Linked DNA regions of Homo sapiens. The protein of the gene in region 1 purifies or fractionates together with the protein of each later gene. This does not show direct contact. Each region holds a gene or a part of one and is shown on either strand. Other genes may lie near its edges.

What was found.
Region 2: the proteins of ANKEF1 (region 1) and UTP4 purify together in Homo sapiens (affinity purification with mass spectrometry; one large-scale study listed by BioGRID and IntAct). This does not show direct contact.
Region 3: the proteins of ANKEF1 (region 1) and USP46 purify together in Homo sapiens (affinity purification with mass spectrometry; one large-scale study listed by BioGRID and IntAct). This does not show direct contact.
Region 4: the proteins of ANKEF1 (region 1) and EPB41L1 purify together in Homo sapiens (affinity purification with mass spectrometry; one large-scale study listed by BioGRID and IntAct). This does not show direct contact.

The regions. Positions count from the first base shown.
Region 1 is NC_000020.11:10,036,846-10,042,375, reverse strand, and holds part of ANKEF1 (ankyrin repeat and EF-hand domain-containing protein 1), read right to left. Parts: intron 4,119-5,530; 5' UTR 4,075-4,118; coding exon 3,729-4,074; exon of another isoform or gene 1,706-3,728; intron 1-1,705.
Region 2 is NC_000016.10:69,137,992-69,143,521, reverse strand, and holds part of UTP4 (U3 small nucleolar RNA-associated protein 4 homolog), read right to left. Parts: intron 3,698-5,530; coding exon 3,608-3,697; intron 1,380-3,607; exon of another isoform or gene 1,332-1,379; coding exon of another isoform or gene 1,223-1,331; intron 345-1,222; coding exon 133-344; intron 1-132. UniProt on the Homo sapiens protein: Ribosome biogenesis factor. Involved in nucleolar processing of pre-18S ribosomal RNA. Part of the small subunit (SSU) processome, first precursor of the small eukaryotic ribosomal subunit.
Region 3 is NC_000004.12:52,651,608-52,657,137, reverse strand, and holds part of USP46 (ubiquitin carboxyl-terminal hydrolase 46), read left to right. Parts: intron 1-598; exon of another isoform or gene 599-827; coding exon of another isoform or gene 828-842; intron 843-5,530. UniProt on the Homo sapiens protein: Deubiquitinating enzyme that plays a role in behavior, possibly by regulating GABA action. May act by mediating the deubiquitination of GAD1/GAD67.
Region 4 is NC_000020.11:36,230,520-36,233,299, reverse strand, and holds the end of EPB41L1 (band 4.1-like protein 1), read right to left. Parts: 3' UTR 501-2,780; downstream 1-500. UniProt on the Homo sapiens protein: May function to confer stability and plasticity to neuronal membrane via multiple interactions, including the spectrin-actin-based cytoskeleton, integral membrane channels and membrane-associated guanylate kinases.

The DNA.
Region 1 (5,530 bases):
AGAATAACCAAAAAAGAAACCACTATGCAACCTATTAAAAAAAAATACTGCAAGGAAAAAGGAAACTGATACTGAAAGCCACGCAAAAAGGATACATACTAGAAAAGATATACCAGTGAAAATTACTGGCTAATTCATTTCCATGATAGCAAAGAAACTAAATATAACTTGTTCTAAAATGAAAGTGCAAAGATAGACCTGAATCTTAAGATTAAAAGGGTACGTTGGGTCTTAGGAAAAGTTGATTAAGAACAGTCAACAAGGCATGCCTAGGTAAAGCTAGGCAAAGAAAGTGTCTCATAAGAATCCAGGCAAAAATTCAACTAATCCATGAAGGGGAAAAGTCCAGCTGCCCTCAAAAATTTATCACAACAACATTCAATGCTACAGTATAATCAAAGGATCTCTACACTATAACTTGGGGAAAAAAAACAGGAAACTTTTATACCCAATCAAGACTTTGTTCATGTAAAAACAACAGACATGTATAGTCTTAAGGATATAAGTAATCAGGGATACAAGCCCAAAGAAGTGACTTAAACTACTTGATGGCAAAAGTGAGTTTTCCAAGAGATCAATAGAGAATATGTGACTAAAAGAACAGTCATAAATACTGAATCTCTTTAGCCACAGAACCAAAGCTAAGTCACCTTAGCAATTTTAGATAGAGAAAAATATATTGCAATTTGTAATAATGTAAAAATAATATAATTTATCAAAAATTTGAGGGAAGGAAGGAGAAATAGTATAAGTATTTGATCTTCTCATCTTTTAGGGCTAAGACTGAGATATTATGTAAAGCAGGTAAGGAAATAAAGTACAAGGTACTTATTATTTAAAAGGGAATCATTGAAAGAACTAAGTAATTATAATTGAGTATAAAATTGAGTGGTAGAAGGGAAGTAGCAGAGGTAAGAGGAAGGGTTATTGTACTAATCTTATCTAATTTATACTATTGTACTAATCTTACTAAACAGAGTAAAGAATCAATGAATACTGTTTAAGATGCTAACTCAATAAACAGGTTTAAGGGCATATGAAGTATCAAGTTAACCATTAAAATAACTAAAAAAAAATAAAAAAACTAAAATAACTAAAAAGCCCATCAATTTTAGAAAATACACTTACAAGCATATAAAGAAAAACACACATATACAGCAAAGTAAAACAAATCTATGGACCATATATGACAATACTTTCACATGTATTTTATATATTAGATATATTTTGCCTTCACAATATAAAATAAATGATGTTTCTGAAACCAACCCTATGGGAAATCTAGATAACTATAAATTGGATAAATTCCACCATTAAAATAAAAAATAAAATGTATATGAAAATCAAAACCTAAATATATTTTATATAAACTGATGTACCTAAAGTAGGGTTACTCAGAACAGTTAAAAAAAAAAAGAAAAGATTGTCAAGGTTATTATTGAAAAGAGAAAGTCAAAGAAAGAGCAAGACATAGAAGGCAGGAACAGAGCAAAACAACAACAGCAACAGCAAAACAACCTAAGCATAATACCCGAGGAGGCTGAATTCATTACAAAAGGCCCAGAGCCACTTATGAAATGAATATTTCATAATGATGGCATGTGCAACACACAGTTAAAGTGTATCTGGGCTGACTCCTTAAGCCACAAAGAACACGAATCAGCATTCCTAAATTGAAGGGAAAACAGTTTGAAAAATATTGTACCTTATCATAGAACTGGCATACGGCATTGAGGACTGAGTACACATGCCTGTAAATGCAAAAACCAATGGAATGGGAATGGGTGCTATAAGGAACTATTATAGCTTAACTTTTAAGGAGAATGATTCCACATTGTAATTAATTCCCTAGGACAACATACAAGAAAGAATGTATTGGCTTAGAGCTTTACCTTCTCCATATTCTGTAAAACTGTTCCAAGAGAAAGTGCCGCTTAGGCCTAGGGCATGTCTCACATCCTAAAGACCCACTTAGCCATTTAAATGTTTGCTTATCCTTTAGGAACGATGTACAGTGAGTCAAACATGAGTCACCAGAAAATAGGATGTCAATGACAGAGAGGGTACTGTGGAATAAGCAAAGCACTTTGGCCACTGGCAGCCAAACTGAGGGATGTGCAAGCTGAGTGAGCCTTGTTGATGTGGGAAGAGACAATGTACTCTGTACAATGGGCACTACCTTGGGTTATGCAGAGTGAGGGCTGCAGGCAGCCATCCTAACAAGCTTATGTGTGAAACAAGATTTTACATTTGTTTCCTTTTATAGTTTCAGTTCTGCCCATGAGATTTGTTTCCTTTAGCCATATGCCTGTTGCATTTGCTGCAAGTATTTACTTGACCTTGTTTCCAATTTTACCTTGATTTTTTAAAAAAAATTTACACTTTTACATTGTTACACTATAGAATTTCTTTTTTCTTTGTGATTTGTATCTGTTTCAAACTCAGTAAGTTAAACGTTTCTCTATTATAGTGTTTCCCAAAGGTTAGTCCACAAAACTCCAGGCATATAAGATGTCATTAAAAAAAATTATTTTGTGGTCAAATAAATATGGAAAATGTCACCATTTTTGAGCCAACAATGTGAAAGATAAATGCCTAAAATGTGTCTCTAATGAATGCGACCGTGGAACCAATTTTGCCTGTAGTACTTCTCAACATCCTGGCAATTCAGTGGTCCATGGAACACACTTTGGGAAATGGTATACTATAGAGCTTTGAGAGGATACCGTTTTTTCAGGATTTAGCATTTCAAAGTACATCTGGCCCCTGAATGCATCTGAAGTTTATTTTCTTACGTGGTACAATTAAATATGTAATTATCCCTTTTCTTTGTCCTCTTTTGTTCTAAGCAAGTAATCATATCAAACACCAAGTCTGGAGAGAGTTAGAAAAGTAGATTTTGCTCTTGTCAGTAAATATTCACATTATCAAATGAGATTCATTTCTCGATTGCAGAGCTGATGTTAATGGCCTTGTATCTGCAGAAACTCAGGACAACTGCTCAAACCTATCAGTTTACATTAAGCTTATTGGTAATTATCTCAGTTATTTTTATGAGGCTGTGTCAATTCTTGCCTGAACCTTAAGTTATTTGGGCAAGAAGTCCTCAGACCATGGTCTTGAGATGATGGGATTAACGGTGTGGAAGTGCAGTTGTTTGATCTGAATCATTGTTGAAAGGTCATGTCTAAAGTTTGAAGTTGTATTTCCAAATACATTTTTAAATGATCCTAGAAAGTTGGAGTTTATGCCAGAATTGACTTTAGTCCTTTCAAGTTTCCAAGTGCAAGTCCTTCCTACATCAGACTGCTATTGAGGGGGTCAAAATCCTTTTGGAGTCCTAGGTGTAGTACTGCCTGAAATTCTAAAATGTAAAAAAGAATAAGAAATGCTCTACTTCATCTTTGTTTTAAAGAAGAGTTTATAATTTATAATGAATAATCAGTGTGTATAATGTTCAAAATTCTCCTCATTTAAAAGAAACCACCAAACACAAATTAATCTAAGTATATGAGCAAGCTCTCATAAATGATTTCCCTAAGATATAGCTATCTCATTTTCAAAGTATGAGGAGACAGTAGGTTTAGGTATAGGAGTGAGAATTTAGCCTTTCCCTTAAAACCATAAGTAATTCACTTCTAAAGTTGGAAAACAAAAAGAGTCCATGTTATTGCTTTCTGGCTACAAAATGAATTGCAATCTGCTGGAGAGGATGTCGGGATTTTTACCTTTTCCTTCATTATCAACTATAGTCATATCAGCCTTTGCCTTTGCTAATATTTCCATTGACAATTCATGGCCCAGTTCTGCAGCCCTCATTGTGGGAGTACAGCCCATTCGGTCTTGCACATCAGGGTGAGCACCAAGGTCAAGGAGAAAGCTGACCATATCAATATCATTGGAAACTGAGGCTAAGTGCAAAGCACTAAGTCCATTAATGGGTTCTGTATAATTGATTAGTTCAGGGTATCCAAGCTTGGTCAGCTTCTCTATCTGCTTCTTGTCTTTGTTCCGCACACATTGAAGAACTTTGTAGATCTGTAAGTTCTCAAGTCTCTTATCTGCTAAAGCCATGCTTGACCAGCTCCTTGAAAATGCTTTCTGGACCAAAACTAAAGCTGAAGCAACAAAAAAGAAAAATAACTCAAAGTTAATTTTATCATCTTCATTTTGATTAAATAACAATATTTTGGAACTTCCTTAAGAACAGAGATTGTTTTTTAAGAAATGTTCAGAAAGTAGGATTTATACATAAATATCAAAAATATTGAGTGGGCATAAAGTTAAAACAGTTCAAACAAATCTTCCATCATAATTAAAAATAGTTTGCCAGGTGGTTTTCTTATTATCCATTTAACCTTCCCTCCTCATCACACTTTACCATTTTACCATGAAGAAGCTGAGGTTAACTAAATTGCCATGGTAAGGGTTTGAGTTCCCACCATCTATCTACATGGTTTCACACCAGCAAAATAGAGAGATCATGCAGGTTTTAATAGTTTTAAGGTGTTATAAAAACATATAATTTTGAGGTGTTCATTATAAACAAATCTACTGGGCTCTGTAACATATCAGAGATGTGATGAGTGATTCCTATGTCATCTTAAGTGGAAAAGATGTAGTTAAATGGCTGCAAGGAAACTGCAAATCTTCATAAACAATCTCCCTGTTAAATTGTGATGGGCATTCTAGTATGTAATTTTACCTCCTTGTACGGAAAATCTTTTGGATTGAGTAGCAGGCCATGCTAGGTATGACCAGTTGTTTCTTCATTTCTTATGAGAAAAGAACTCCATTATCACATAGGGAATCCTATCCGGGTCGTTTGGATGGGGCTGTCCCTTCTGTCCCCTGCCAGAGGAAAGCGTCTGTGGCCTAGGCTTGGCCCATTTGAGGGAACCATCCCTTTCCAGGTACACTGAAGCTCAAGCATATGTGCATAAAAGACATCAACCAATCAGCAGCCCATCATCCAGAACTATGAGGGAAGACTATTCTGCTGAAGTTGTTAAGCAGTATGGTGTGGGGCTGGGGCGCAGGTAGCTCTCTTGGGTGCCACAGAGAGAGTCCATGCTTGGAGGATGGAGAGAGACTGAGATTGATGGCATTAGTTGCAACATGGATTCCATGGTGCCAGAAGCCATCTACCACTTTGTGGGTAAATACATCTTCTCCCCCGTCACCTTATTTTGGTATAAGCTAGTTAGCTAAGTTTCCAACATTTGCAATGAAAAGATTCCATCTTACTACAAAAGTTGAAACTATGCACCATTTTTCTCCATCGCAAGCCTGCTCCCTCACCTACATTCTCTACGGCAGTGAGCTCTCTCTCCTTTAAATGTGTCTCTCTAGGCACCACAACATCTCCATCGCCTGCTTCCATCCAACACCAATGCCCCCTCCTGCTCAGGCTCCTTTGCTGACTCCCCATTTCAAGAAGCCTATGTTGGGTGCCCAGGGCTAGGTCCTCAAGACTCTTTTCTGTCCTCACACACTCCCCTGGTGTCTCGCCCTATCCCATGACCCTCGA
Region 2 (5,530 bases), on another chromosome or scaffold:
TTCCTAAACTCATCTTCCTCCAGTACAACATCAGGATCAGGAACCAGTGTTCATGGCACGTCACTAAGGCTGCTTTCTCAACTCACCCCACAAGGGTGTACATCAACCACTCTAAACAGGGACTGTACTCACGTCAGCTACAGCAATGGACTGCACGTCAGCATTAGCGATGAGATGGCTCTTCACAAGCGTCCCAGTGGCTGAGTCCCAGAACTGCACCTTCCCAGCAGAGTCCACACTTATGATAGTGCCATCGGACAAGAAGGCGACACCCCACACGATGCACTTCCGCTTAGACACGCCCATATACTGCCTGTCCACAATCATCTTATGAACAGCGCTGCCTGAAAAATCAGAAAAGCACACCTTCAAATGGTACTTATTTCTCTGTCTTCAAAATCTGCCTGCGGCCAAAGTGGAAGGACTGCTTGAGCCCTGGAGTTTAAGGCCAGCCTAGGCAACGAAGTGAGACCTCATCTCTACGAAACAACATAACAAACCCGCCTGCGGTAAGCATGATATGGTAGGTGAGCTGACTGAACAGTCAGCCTATAAATGGTAGTTCTGGTGAACCTGATCTCGGAACTCCAAAATGGTTACCTGAAGAGAAGGGGTGTTGGGAGAGCCTAACAGGAAAGGGATAGAAGGTGCAAGGGAGGGAGGAAGGGAGGGAAGAGAATGAGAACAGAAACCCCTTTGGTGGGGTGAAATGGAAAGAGACATTTGGGACATTCACTTAAAGCTGGTCAACTGCACACACACATTACACTCTGCTCTTTTCCAAAATCCCACAGGAAAGGGAGAGATCAGTGACAAAATTTGGGGAACTGGAAAGCAGACAAGTAGTGGCACTGACTTAGCAGAGCCCTGAAACTAAGTCCCAGGTCGGCAGAGAGGAAAGCCAAGAAGCCACCTGATTTATACTATGGAATCCTTGGACTCAGGAATTGGGGACCCCAGATATTCTAGAAAAGGAGTAAGTGGGGCTTCAAAGAGGGATCCGTTAACAGCTGGTAGACCCCTCAGATAGCCATGCCCTGACTAAGAAGGTGGGAAGCTCCCAAAATGCACGTCAGCAGAATACTGGAGACGTTGTCTGAGGAGGGCTATCAGGCAGAAGCAGTATATGAAAACCAGGATTAAGTGAACATTTCTCACTGAATGTTGAGAACACCATTCTTTTTTTTCCCCTTAGAATGCTGATAGCCAGGCCAATACTCACCAGGCAGGAGAATGAAAAACCATTTCTGAGGAACATAACTGACACAAAAGAAAAGATCTGAAGATTCTGGCTTCAGGGCTACCCCAAATAAGCAGTCCAGCCAGATCATTCTTCAGTGAAACCCAAGCTCAGTAAGCCACATGATGCAGTGATGAGATGATCACCAGACATGAGGAAAGCCTTTAACATGAAAGGCAGAGGCCAAACGGACTAACAGAAACAAATAAATGAATAACAGGGAAGAAACAGGCAGAGTGAAAAACACTTGACAATTATTAATAGCCTTAGAGAAGAGTTTCGGGGTGAGGGGAGGGGGGAGGGATAGCATTAGGAGATATACCTAACGCTAAATGACGAGTTAATGGGTGCAGCACACCAGCATGGCACATGTATACATATGTAACTAACCTGCACATTGTGCACATGTACCCTAAAACTTAAAGTATAATAATAATAAAATAAAATAAAATAAAAAAAGAAAGAGAAGAGTTTCTGTATAATGAAACATAAAGAGAATGCTGTAAAAAAGAAGATTCACGAAAAAAAAGAACTCTGGAAATGTCAAAAATGAAAAACTCAATAGAGGATTCAAAGATAAAAAAGACAAACTCTCCCAGAAAGCATAGTAAAAAGACAAAGAAATGAAAAATAAGAGTAAAAGAATTTCCCCCCAGAACTGAAGGACGTGGGTATTGGATTAGAAGAACCTACCAGGTGTCCAGAACAATTAATTGATCCACATACCAAGAAACCTAATTATTACATTTCATAACAGTAAGGATAAAACATCCTAAAAGCTCCTGGGGGAAAAAAAAATAAAACAGGTCCTACACAAAGGGATAACTCTCAGAATGGCAGCTTACTTGCTAATAATACGAGGAGCTGGAAGACAGCGGAGCCAGGGCTTCAGAATTCTAAGGGAAAAGAATTTCCAACCTAGAATTCTTTCTCATGCACTCTTACTCAGGATCCACCAAAGGGTAAACCAAGAAAGTGAATAACACAGAAATGGGAGATCCTATCCGATAGAGAAGCAAAGGAGATCCCGAGAACAATGGAAAAATCAATCAGAGTTTCAGATCTCACAGCTGTGCAGCAGGCCCAGAGTGGCTAAGCCAGATGGGAGTGGGTCAGAAGGCACCGGGAGGGACTTATTCACAAAGATAAAAGTGGAGAAAGAAAATCAGATGGACTTGAACCTAATTTATGCAACTGGAAAAATGTGGGAATGTATCAGTAAGACAGAGAGACAGAGACACTATTAAACAATAAGTATACCGGAAAAGAAAGAAAATTTACTATGTGAGTAGTATATACATAGTCATAATAATGAAAACATCAATTACTAATTTGAACAAAGTTATAATATAACCATACTGGGAGGATCGGGAGGAAGTGTGGATGCCTGTGGCAGACGGTAGAAAAAGAGGGGCAAGTTGCAGAAGTCAGTAAAAAATGGTCTAAAGCTGAAAAATCAAAATGTAGCATAAAAAGCATGCTAGGATCTGCAGTGATAGATACCAAAAGAATCAGCTAAGGGTCACAAGTGGTTGCCTCGAGGAGAGTGAGAGAGATATAGAAGGACTCCCTCTTTTTTGTAATAAGCTTAAGGGATTTTTTTTTTTTGAGACGCAGTTTCACTCTTGTTGTCAGGCTGGAGTGCAATGGGGCGATTCTCCTGCCTCAGCTTCCTGAGTTGATGGGAATACAGGCATGCACCACCACCCCGGCTAATTTTGTATTTTTAGTAGAGACAGGGTTTCTCCATGTTGGTCAGGCTGGTCTTGAACTCCCGACCTCAGGTGATCCACCCACCTCGGCCTCCCAAAGTGCTGGGATTACAGGCATGAGCCACCGCGCCCAGCCAACCTGTTTTATCTCTGCATCTCAGACGGAAATACAGACATGTCCACCTAACAAGTTGAGATCAACCCTATCAATGAAGGATTCTATGAAGCCAATTTTCCAGGCCAAGAACAGAAAATATCATGGTTCTCTGCTTTTCTGATCTCATGTTTCACCAATTATGCTACAAAAATCTTATGTTCCTCAATGACAGAAGCCCATTTTTACCAAGGACTGGGATCTATAAATAGGTAATTCTACTGTTTATAGTACACGAATGTACTAGTTCAGAGTATTTTATTGTGAATTCTTATTACGATGAATGAAAAATACTATATCTTACTGAAGATCCAAGATTCCCCTAAAAGCAGTGGTAGTAATCCAAGAAAGGAGTAAAATTAATTGTGGACATCTCAGAAGATTAATGACATGTTAGGCCATAAAGGTCATGAAACCATGACAAAGGCTCAAGCTTTTGAAAACTCAGAAATGTGAATCTGACAAAACCCACACCCCAAATGAACTGAAAAAAACAATCACCTGATTTGACATCAAACACACTAATGTAGTCTATGGAACCAGCTGCAATGTGGGTACCAGAGGGATGCCAGCTGAGACTCAGGATGCGACCTTGGGAGTTGGACAACAAAAAAAGAAAGTGACATACACATAAATATACGAAGAGTAACTGAGCTCTCTTCCCACAACTATCTCTAGAGTGTTCTACAATCTTAGCTCTCTCATCTATAGTACTCCTTGAAGCACCATTTTATTTATTTATTTATTTATTTATTTATTTATTTATTTATTTATTTTTGAGACGGAGTCTCCTCTGTCGCCCAGGCTGGAGTGCCGCAGTGGGATCTCGGCTCACTGCAACCTCCGCCTCCCAGGTTCAAGTGATTCTCCTGCCTCAGCCTCCCTAGTAGCTGAGATTACAGGCACCTGCCACCATGTCTGGCTAATTTTTGTATTTTTAGTGGAGATGGGGTTTCACCATGTTGGCCACGCTGGTTTCGAACTCCTGACCTCAAGTGATCCACCCGCCTCAGCCTCCCAAAGTACTGGGATTACAGGTGTAAGCCATCGTGCCCAGCTGAGACACCTATTTTCTATTTCATACTTGACAAAATGTATGAGATTTTTAAAAAGCATTGTATTACCTTTGTAATTGAGAAAGAACACCCAGGCCGGGTGCAGTTGCTCATGTCTGTAATCCCACCACTTCAGGAGGCCGAGGTGGGTGGATCACGAGGTCAGGAGGTCAAGACCAGCCTGGCCAACATGGTGAAACCCCGTCTCTACTAAAAACACAAAAACTAGCCGGGCATGGTGGCACGCACCTGTAGTCCCAGCTACTAGGGAGGCTGAGGCAGGAGAATTGCTTGAACCCAGGAGGCAGAGGTTACATTGAGCCAAAATCACGCCACAGCACTTCAGCCTGGGCGACAAAGCAAGACTCCATCTCAGGAAAAAAAAAAAAAAAAAAAAAAAAAGAGCACCCAAGATATATTAAAAACGAAGCAAGAATCTGATTAGCAGAGGATAAGTATTACTAATGGACACAGAGGACATTTGCTATTCTAGAAGATGGGTCACCAAACTGTGGCCCACAGGCCAAATCAGGCCCACTGCTTGTTTTTGTAAATAAAGTTTTTACTGGAGCACAGCCTGCCCATTAGTTTCAGTATCGTCTATGGCTGCTTTTGCACTACACTGACAGAGTTGGCAGACAATGTAGGTTTGGCAAAGCCTAAAATGTTTACTATCTGGTCCTTTACAGAAACAGTCTGCCAACCCCTGTTCTAAAGGGTCAATGCCAATTCAGCCCAGGTGGAGCCCAAGGATGGGCAACTGTTTATAAACTCCCTCATTCAACTTGAATGCACCAGAAGGATTAAGAACCACAGTTCCTTGGCCAGGGCAAGTGGCTCAGGCCTGTAATCCCAGCACTTGAGGCCAAGGCAGGTGGATCACTTGAGTAAGACCAAGAGTTCGAGACCAGCCTGGCCAACATGGTGAAATCCTGTCTCTACTAAAAATACGAAAATTAGCAGGGCACGATGGCACGTGCCTGGAATCCCAGTCACTTGGGAGGCTGAGGCACCAGAATCACTTGAAGCCGGGAGGCGGAGATTACAGTGAGCCGAGATCATGCCACCGCCACTGCCAGCATGGATGACAGAGTGACACTCTGCCTCCAGAAAAAAAAAAAAAAAGAAAGAAAAGAACCATAGTTCCTAATGACAAAATTGTAGTTCAAGACTTCATGTACGCTTGTTAAAACATCACAAAAGTAAGTGATAACTAACAAATTGACTTCCACAGAAACACTAGCTTTCCAATTTTGGATTTCTGGTTTTCTATATTATTACTTAACCAAGCAGTCACAACTATGCTATACAATGGGTAAAGCCTGGGCTGGGGATGGCTTCTAGCACATACCCTCCCTGTACCCAGTAG
Region 3 (5,530 bases), on another chromosome or scaffold:
ATTTAGACGCCATGTCTAGAGAGTGACAGAGTTTGGGTTCTAATGTCAGACTTCCTGGGTTCAGGTCCTGGTTCTTTTTTTTTTTTTTTTTTTTTTTGACAAGGTCTCACACTGTCACCCAGGCTGGAGTGCAGTGGCATGAACATGGTGGCTCACTGCAGCCTCCACTTCCCAGGCTCAAGTGATTCTCCCACCTCTGCCTTCTGAGTAGCTGGGACTACAGGCACGTGCCACCATGCCTGGCTAATTTTTAAATTTTCCATAGAGACTGGGTCTCCCTATGTTGCCCAGGCTGGTCCCTAATACCTGGGCTCAAGTGGTCCTCCCACCTCAGCCTCCCGAAGCGCCAAATTACTGCCGTGAGCCACCATACCCGGCAGGTCCTGGTTCTAACACATGTTGGCTTTGTGTCCTTGAACAAGTTGTCCGGTCTTAGACTTTCCTTATCTACCAAAAGGTGATGTTAATATTGTTGTATTACTCGGGCACAGGGCCTGGTACATGGCTAGAACTCAGTGAGTGTCATTGTCAACATCATCTTTCTCATTGTTATGTCATCTACCAGGTGTTTAAGGGACAGTGGAGATCATGCCATTTCAGACCTGGTGGAAGCAACCACTAATATAAACACCTCCCATGTATAGGAAGGCTGGAGTGGGAATCCTTAACCCCGCCCCCTGCTCAGGTCAATCCCCCACCCACCGCCCCCACTGTCCCTCCCAGTCTTCCTTCCCAGAGGAGAAGGCTGGGTATGAGGAAACTGCTGTCTTTTCACTGGATCAGACGTAAATATTAACTGGACCTCTCTTTAGATTCTTTGCTCAATAATGAATTGTTTTCAGGTAGGTGTCTTACAGGTCCCTTCTCACTGCTTAGCTCCTCTGTGGGCCTCTTACTGACCCTTCCCGCTCCTAACTTTGGTCCCAGCTGGTTTGAGTAGTTGTAGTAAGAGCAAATGGTGATTGCATTTTTTTCTTAAGCACATCGTTTAACATATTTTGAACAGGCTGATATGTGTTCAGAAAGGATATTAGAAGGTACCATTTTTCTGGGTAACAGGAAAAAACGAAGATCTATCATTGAAAGTGGATTTGTTTCCTCCACCAGATAAGAAAGGACCCAGCAGAGCAGAAATCAAATTTGTAGCAGATACTTCGTGTGATTGAGAACTAAACATCCCCTCTTTTCCCCATACTTCTTGTGCCAGTTTTAGTTATAGGAAACTTGGAAAATATCTTCATTCCTCCACTTACCCACCCACTTGCTGAAGTTTTATTGTTCACTGGAAGTTTAGTACTAGTTTCTATTTGTTTTAATTTTTCTTCCATGTGAATTCCTGCCATGGTAATTCTTGATGAACTTGCTCAGGGCAAGGCAGCTTGGCCACACAGCAGTGTGTGGTTCAGAGATAGTAAAGCTTGTTTGGCTGGTGTGTTGTAATTTTCATAATGCACTAGCTGCTACCAAGCATGAGGAAATGTCTTCTGTTGATAATCCTCTGATTTTTGTCCAGACCAATGGATTTAACTTCCTATATATTTTTATGGCCCTGCAAATGGAAAGTTTTTGTTTTTGGGTTTTTTAAGTTTCCTATTTGAAGAGCTTGAGAAATTTTCTAAAAAGGAAGCATTAGTTAGAAGAAACCAAATGTGACATACCAATGCAAGTTGCTTCAGATCATCTAATCTTATTTCATTTGTTAATAATGCTGTAAGATGTACCTCTGAGAAAATGCTGTGTATCAAATGATTACGAGTTTTGTTCCGATAAATGGCCATCTGTTGAGGACCTGCTATGTTGGTGTTGGCACAGACTATACTCAAGTGCTTAATAAATGAATGAGGTGAGTCCCTGTCCCCAAGGGGCTCAGCTGTTCCTTATCTTGTGGGTGTTAACATTGGTAAAGATGAAACAATTTCAATACAGTGTTATATCAGCACAGATAGAAGTTGAATAAACTCCCAGCAGCTGTACAGTGGAAAGACCGATTAACACAACAGGACATTTCAAAAATACATTCTCGTTTGACCAAAGTTGTATACACATTCTGCTTCTGGCTTTTATTTTATATGAGGACATGATTGTAGTCAATGTGAGTTAGAATTGAAATCTGCACCATTGGGTGTCTCTCCAGTTAAGCATGAATCTAATGGTGCTTTTGGGCAAACTGTTGTATTTCCGGAGACCTTAGTTTTTCTCATCTTGTAAAACTGATTTTCTGTTTTTGGTCATGAAAAACTTCATGGTAGAATTCCTTAGATAAAGGCTTTATGAAAATCTGCACCTCTTAATTGGTTAGCAACCACTTCATTACCTAACTACCTTGTTTAAAACTGTATTGAACTTATGACATGTTAGCATTTTAGCGTCTGTAGAACAGCCTCAGGATAATTTTTGACATCAGTTTGAGTGCCAGATTTTAGTTCTTTTAAATAAATGAGGTAGGCTGGGCATGGTGGCTCACTGGTAATACCAGTACTTTGGGAGGCCGAGGCAAGAGGATTCTTTGAGCCCAGGAATTCAAGATCAGCCTAGGCAACATAGTGAGACCCAATCTCTACCAAAAAGAAACAAACAAAATCATGTAAATAAAAATGTATCATATAAATAAATGAAGTTATCTGGAAATAAAGGGAAAGTAAACATTACAATTTTGAAACAAAACTAGAGTATTTTTATAGTTTTATCTTGATAAGTCAACTACTTACCTAAGGCAAGTATTTTGAGAATGGTTGGAAACAACTTTTTAATTATTAAAAAATATGTCCATCTTGTGATTTGGGGGAACAGATATCTTGCCTTTTCCTCTGTTACTGTTATTCATGCTTTCCATTCTCAAAGATAGTTGGCAATTATAAGTTTAGTTAATATATCAGCTAGGTGTAAAGTCATATGAGGGTCTACTCTGATAGTTGCTGGGATTAGAAAATACAGTCTGAGGTGAGGTGGATTAATGTTTAAAGAAAAGAAATTCTGTTTTTCTGGCCCCACTGGTCTCATATGCAGAGGTTTATATTAGGTCGGGACCTGACAATTAGTTCTGCGGATTTTTCTGTTTTTCTTGGACTCCTCAGAGAAAACAAAGTTGAATGCTGGTATTTAGTTAGAATGAAAGATTATGATACCTTTTCTGTATAACAACTTTATGTGCTTCAGTTCACTCATACCATAAAATCTGTTTATTTATTCTTCACTAAGTGGAATTTTGGTATGTTTGGGTTATAATTGAAAGGCATTTTCAATTTTGATTCTCTTAGCAATTAAGAGAAATTTCTCTAGCTCAGATGTCTTTTTTTTCCCCCTCCTGGTCTTTCTAGTTAGTGTGAATAGATTGGGGTTCCATGATGGTATTAAATTCTGTGGTATCATCAGAAAGGTATTTGGTAACCACCTATCTCTATCTCTAGCTTACCCATGAAGCCACCCAAAGCTAACTAACTGGAAGAGATGTAAAAGATGGTGTCTTTTAGTCTAGTTAACTTTTCTGGTCTAATTATTTTAATGCAGCTTCTTATAACAAACCTTCAGTTGTGGTGGAACCAAATGCTGATCTAAGGGTTTGAAAGGCCTTGGTGGTCTTTAAGAGAAAAGGCCACCCAAAAATCAATCAGCAAAATCTTTTTTTTTTTTTTTTTTTTTTTTGAGATAGAGTTTTGTTCTTGTTGCCCAGGCTGGAGTGCGATGGCTTCACTGCAACCTCTGCCTCCTGGATTCAAGTGATTCTCCTGCCTCAATCTCCTGAGCAGCTGGGATTACAGTTGCCTGCTACCATGCCTGGCTAATTTTGCATTTTTAGTAGAGATAGGGTTTCACCATGTTGGCCAGGCTGGTCTCAAACTCCTGACCTCAGGTGATCCGCCCGCCTCAGCCTCTCAAAGTGCTAGGATTATAGGTGTGAACCACTGTGCCCTGCCACGAAAACATTCTTGAGACGAACTCTGTGTTAGCGAACAACCCTAACAGTAAAGGGTTTTTGGAATATTTCTCTTCTGGGACTATGGCTTGAAGTTTGAGGGATGCTGTAAGTGCTGTACATGGAAGTTTACCCCAATTCTCAGAATGATTCTTTGCAATGGATAGTTTTAAGATCATGGTGATGGGACTCTGTGGTCGCCAAAGCTTCACTTTACCCTCATAGGGCCAACCTTCCTTTTCTTCCTCAAGTTCCAATGTCACTTTTAGAACCCTCAGATACTTTTTAAATTAGCTCAGACTTTGCCTTTTTTTCTGAGTGATGGTGAATTTTAGACATACAGAAATGTGGAATAATAGAGTGAATACTCGTGTACTCCCCACCCAGTGAAGAAATAAAATACTATATATACATTTAAAACCACCTATGAGTCCTTCCTGATCTCATTGCCTCTCCCCACAGAGTGACCACTATTCTGCATTTAGTGTTTATTGTATATTTTTATATTTTTACTAGATTTGTATGCATTCATAAACTAGATATAGTGTATTTTTTCATGTTTTAAACATGCTTTATAATATTAAACATTCCTCTCAGTTTGCTTTTATTGTTTAAATTGTGATTTTGCTATTTATCCATTGAGAGACACATAATCCTAGTTTATTTTAACTGCTGTATAACATTCCATTATATAAATATGCTATGACACATTCATTTTAATGTTGTAAGCAGGTTTACAAATTTGTGAGTGTGCTGTTTTAATGCAATGAACAGTTGTGAACTCATCTCCCTGTGTATAGTATACACAGTTGACAGTTGACAGTTTCTCTGTGGTGTAAACCTGGAAGGGAATTGCTGGGTCAAAGGAATTTGATCGTCTTCTTTAATAAGTTGCCTGATTGCTCTCCAAAGAAGTTATGCCAATTTGCATTCCAACCAAGCAGCGTTTGGGGGTTCCAGTTGCTTCACATGTTTGCAGATATTTGATATTGCTAGACTTGATGTTTTGCCAGTCTGATGGGTGTGACATTGTGCCTTTGTGGTTTAAAATTTGCACTTTTCCTGTTTGCTAGGGGAGGTTGAACATCTTTTCATGTGTTTGTTATGCTGGTTTGTTTTCAACTCAGGGGCCTGAGAACAGTTTTCCAGGTCTTGAAAGTCAGGATTGTAGTTTTGGTTTTGTCTGAAAACAGGGACAATGAAGAAGGGACAGTGAAGAGGAAAATCAAGGAGACCAAAGCAAAAGTCATGAAAGGTAGGGATGGATTGGAAGATGCAGGTGAAAAAAATGATGACAAGATAATCACTGTGGAGGGGTGAAAACTAGTAACAAAAAGATAATAGAGTAGCACTGAGAAGATACCTTGAATTTTGAGAGTAAATTTGGGAGACCTGCCTGTGCCAGCAAGGCCTTGTTCAAGCCACATTTGCTTTGTTTAATTGACATTGGCTTTAGTGAAAATCGTGTCTGGGGCCTGTTCTGGTGAGAACAGCAGCAAAGCTGGACTTGCAGAGTTTTCCTGTTTACCCAGTTGCTTTTTCAAGTTCTTTTAGAAAGGCATTGTGAAACGATGGTCATCTTCCTAAAATACATTTCTCTGTCCTTCAGGTTAGGTA
Region 4 (2,780 bases), about 26 Mb from region 1:
CACGTCCTGGGGCCTGTATGCTTACTGTTCCCTCTCCTAGAATGTGCACCAAAGTTCCTCGCCTTTGTTGATTGATCCTTCTTTTCATTCAGCTCACAGATCGCCTCCTCAGGGAGGCCTTACCTGGCCACTGTATTTAAAGTGGTCTCCTTCAGTGACCCTCCTTCCCTTCTCCCGGTGTATTTCCTTCCTAGTGCTGAGTGCTCTGTAACGGACTGTTTGCCTGTGTTGGCATCTGTTTCCTCCACTAGCCTGTGGGTTCATGAAGGGCAGGGACTTTTGTCTTGTTTGTGTTGTGCCTGGAGAGTCACCCAAGGCCTGGACCACCTTGAGTTCCAAATATTTGTTGCATAAACATGTTCTAAGTTGGGATGTCTCCACTTCAGTTTTAGCCCCTCCCACAGTGCCAACTTGTACCAGTGGCCAAAGTCAGAGAGAGACAGTGAGAGAGAGAGAGAGAGAGAGAGAGAGAGAGAGAGAGAGGAGAGGTGCCAAGGAAGTATGGTTCAGCATCAAACACATTTATTTCACTTATATTGAGTATACAAGAACAGAGAGCACACGCATACAGCACGGAGCACTGAGGTGGGGGAGCATGGGGACGAGAAAGGAGAGAAGGGTGTGAGTAAAAAGGAACAGGACAGCATCGCAATTGGTTGTTAAGGTGCTTTTGAAAAAAAAAATTATTTCGAGTGATGTTGCTCATGCAGTTTCAGGCCAGTCTTGGAATGTGCTTGCAGGATTCAAAAACTGAAACAGGTCCTGGTACTTCCTGTACCCTCAGATGGAAAAGATCCAGAGAAAACAAAATAAGAGAAAATGAAGACCCATGAGATAGCAAAGTAGAAAAAGACCCTGGAGAGCATCTGGTTCTTTCTGCTTATTTTGCAAGTCGGGAAACTGAGGCCCAAGAGGGGGAATGGGGATAGCCTGATGTCACATGGTGAGTTAGGAGCTGAGCCAGGATGGTCACCCAGAACTCCTAACCGCCCTCAGGGACTTTTTCCACTATGCTACATGGCCTCCTGGGTGGAGAGGTGGCACAGAGAGGATGAGAAACAAAAAAGAGAAAAGGAAAAGTAGGTTGAAGACAGACAAGACAAACGTCTCTATTCTCTACAAAGAGAAGGATGGGGAGGAAACAGTGCCCTAGATTCTAGCTTTGCAGGTCCCCTCCTCCCTCGTGGCACTGCCTGCATCTCCGTAGAAGGGAGGTCACAGCATCCGCGGGATGGTGATTTCCCCAAACCCTGGTGGCCCATAAACTCCACAAGCTAAGCCTGGTCACTTCACCCCTGCCCCAAAGCCAGGTGCAAAATCCACAACAAGGATCCTCCCTCTGAGGTGTGTTCAGTGTGCTCAGGACTCCTGGTTCCTGCAAAGATGAGTTCCTAGACCGAAGTGGCCCAGAGAGGATGGAGCCACCACTCCAGCTCTTGACCCAGAAAGAGGGGGAACTCTCAAGAAGGGCAGGAAGAAGGTTCTGTGGCTTTTCCACCAGGATTGTAGAAAGAACCTGGTGTATGGAAAGTGTGCTGCTACACTCAGGGGGAGTTGGAGTGGACCCACCGGCCTGCACCAGGGGGAATGCCACTGATTCTGCTGCCCCGCTGAACTTCCCATTTGCCCAGAGAAGCAAATGCTATTCTGATTTCCTGCCCTGCCTCAGGCCAGCACCAGCTAAGCAGCTAAGGTGTATGTCATCACTGACAAGCCAAAGGGACGCATCTAACCTGGGCCGCCTGGGGGCATCCCTGGGCTATGCCCCGATAGGTTGGCGAGAGTGGGGAGATGCTCTCAGATGGGCCAGCCATGGTTGAAATATAAAGCTGGCTCAGGTGGCTCCTCAGGTTCCGCCCTCCCCTCCCACCTTCTTCAGCCTGAGAATAGTCCCTGGCACAAGCAGGTAATCAGTAAATACTTGTGGAATGAATTTATTAACTGGTTTAGAAGGAGGACTGGGAGGTAAAATGGAACTGAGAAATTCGCAGTGCAGTGGGACATTTTCCCTCATCAAGGGGCACTTTCTGAGCTCAGAGAAGTAGCTTGTGGCAGACAAGCCTGAGGAAGCCCACGTGTGGCAGAGAGCAATGCCAAGCTTGTGATGGGAGCTTCTTGAAGGGTTCCTGTGGTCTTGGGGTAATTTCTGGGCACAAGCTCAGAGTTCAGCTGTTGACTGAGAGGGAGGTCTCCAAGCCAAGGTCTTATGCAGAGCTGGAGCCTATGAGCAACATCACCCGTCAGTCTCAGCTTTGTCCTGGGACAGGGGAGGGCTTTGCAAATGCAGTTTTGATCTTTCAGGGTCTGCCCCATGAAGCCTCCTTACCATGGCTACTTTGGCCTGAGAAGAAGAAATGATTCAGAACAAGGAAGAGAGTAGAGGAAAAGGCTTAGCTGGGAATTTTTAGACAGTCAGGTTAAAGCCACCATCTTCTACAATGGCTGAGAGCACCACCTCCCTTTGGATATGGAGTTGGTTATTACAATGGGGTCAGGGAAGGGCAGAATGTGGCAAAAAAAAAAAAAAGAGAGAAAGAGAGAGAAGACTGAAAACCAAGGCAAGCCCCGTAGGGAGATAAGGACTAAGCCAGGGACCTCTACTGTGGCAACTTCAGCAGCAGAGTCCCAGACTGGGACCCAGTACCTGAGCACAGACCAGGCCCTGACTGTTACTACCAGGGGGGCAGGGAGAAGGTGTCTTGAACTGGCATTTTGGGGACGACATCTGTGTTGCTTCTTTCTTGCCAAACCCACACCTCTCCATTAGGGCCCCCCACCCC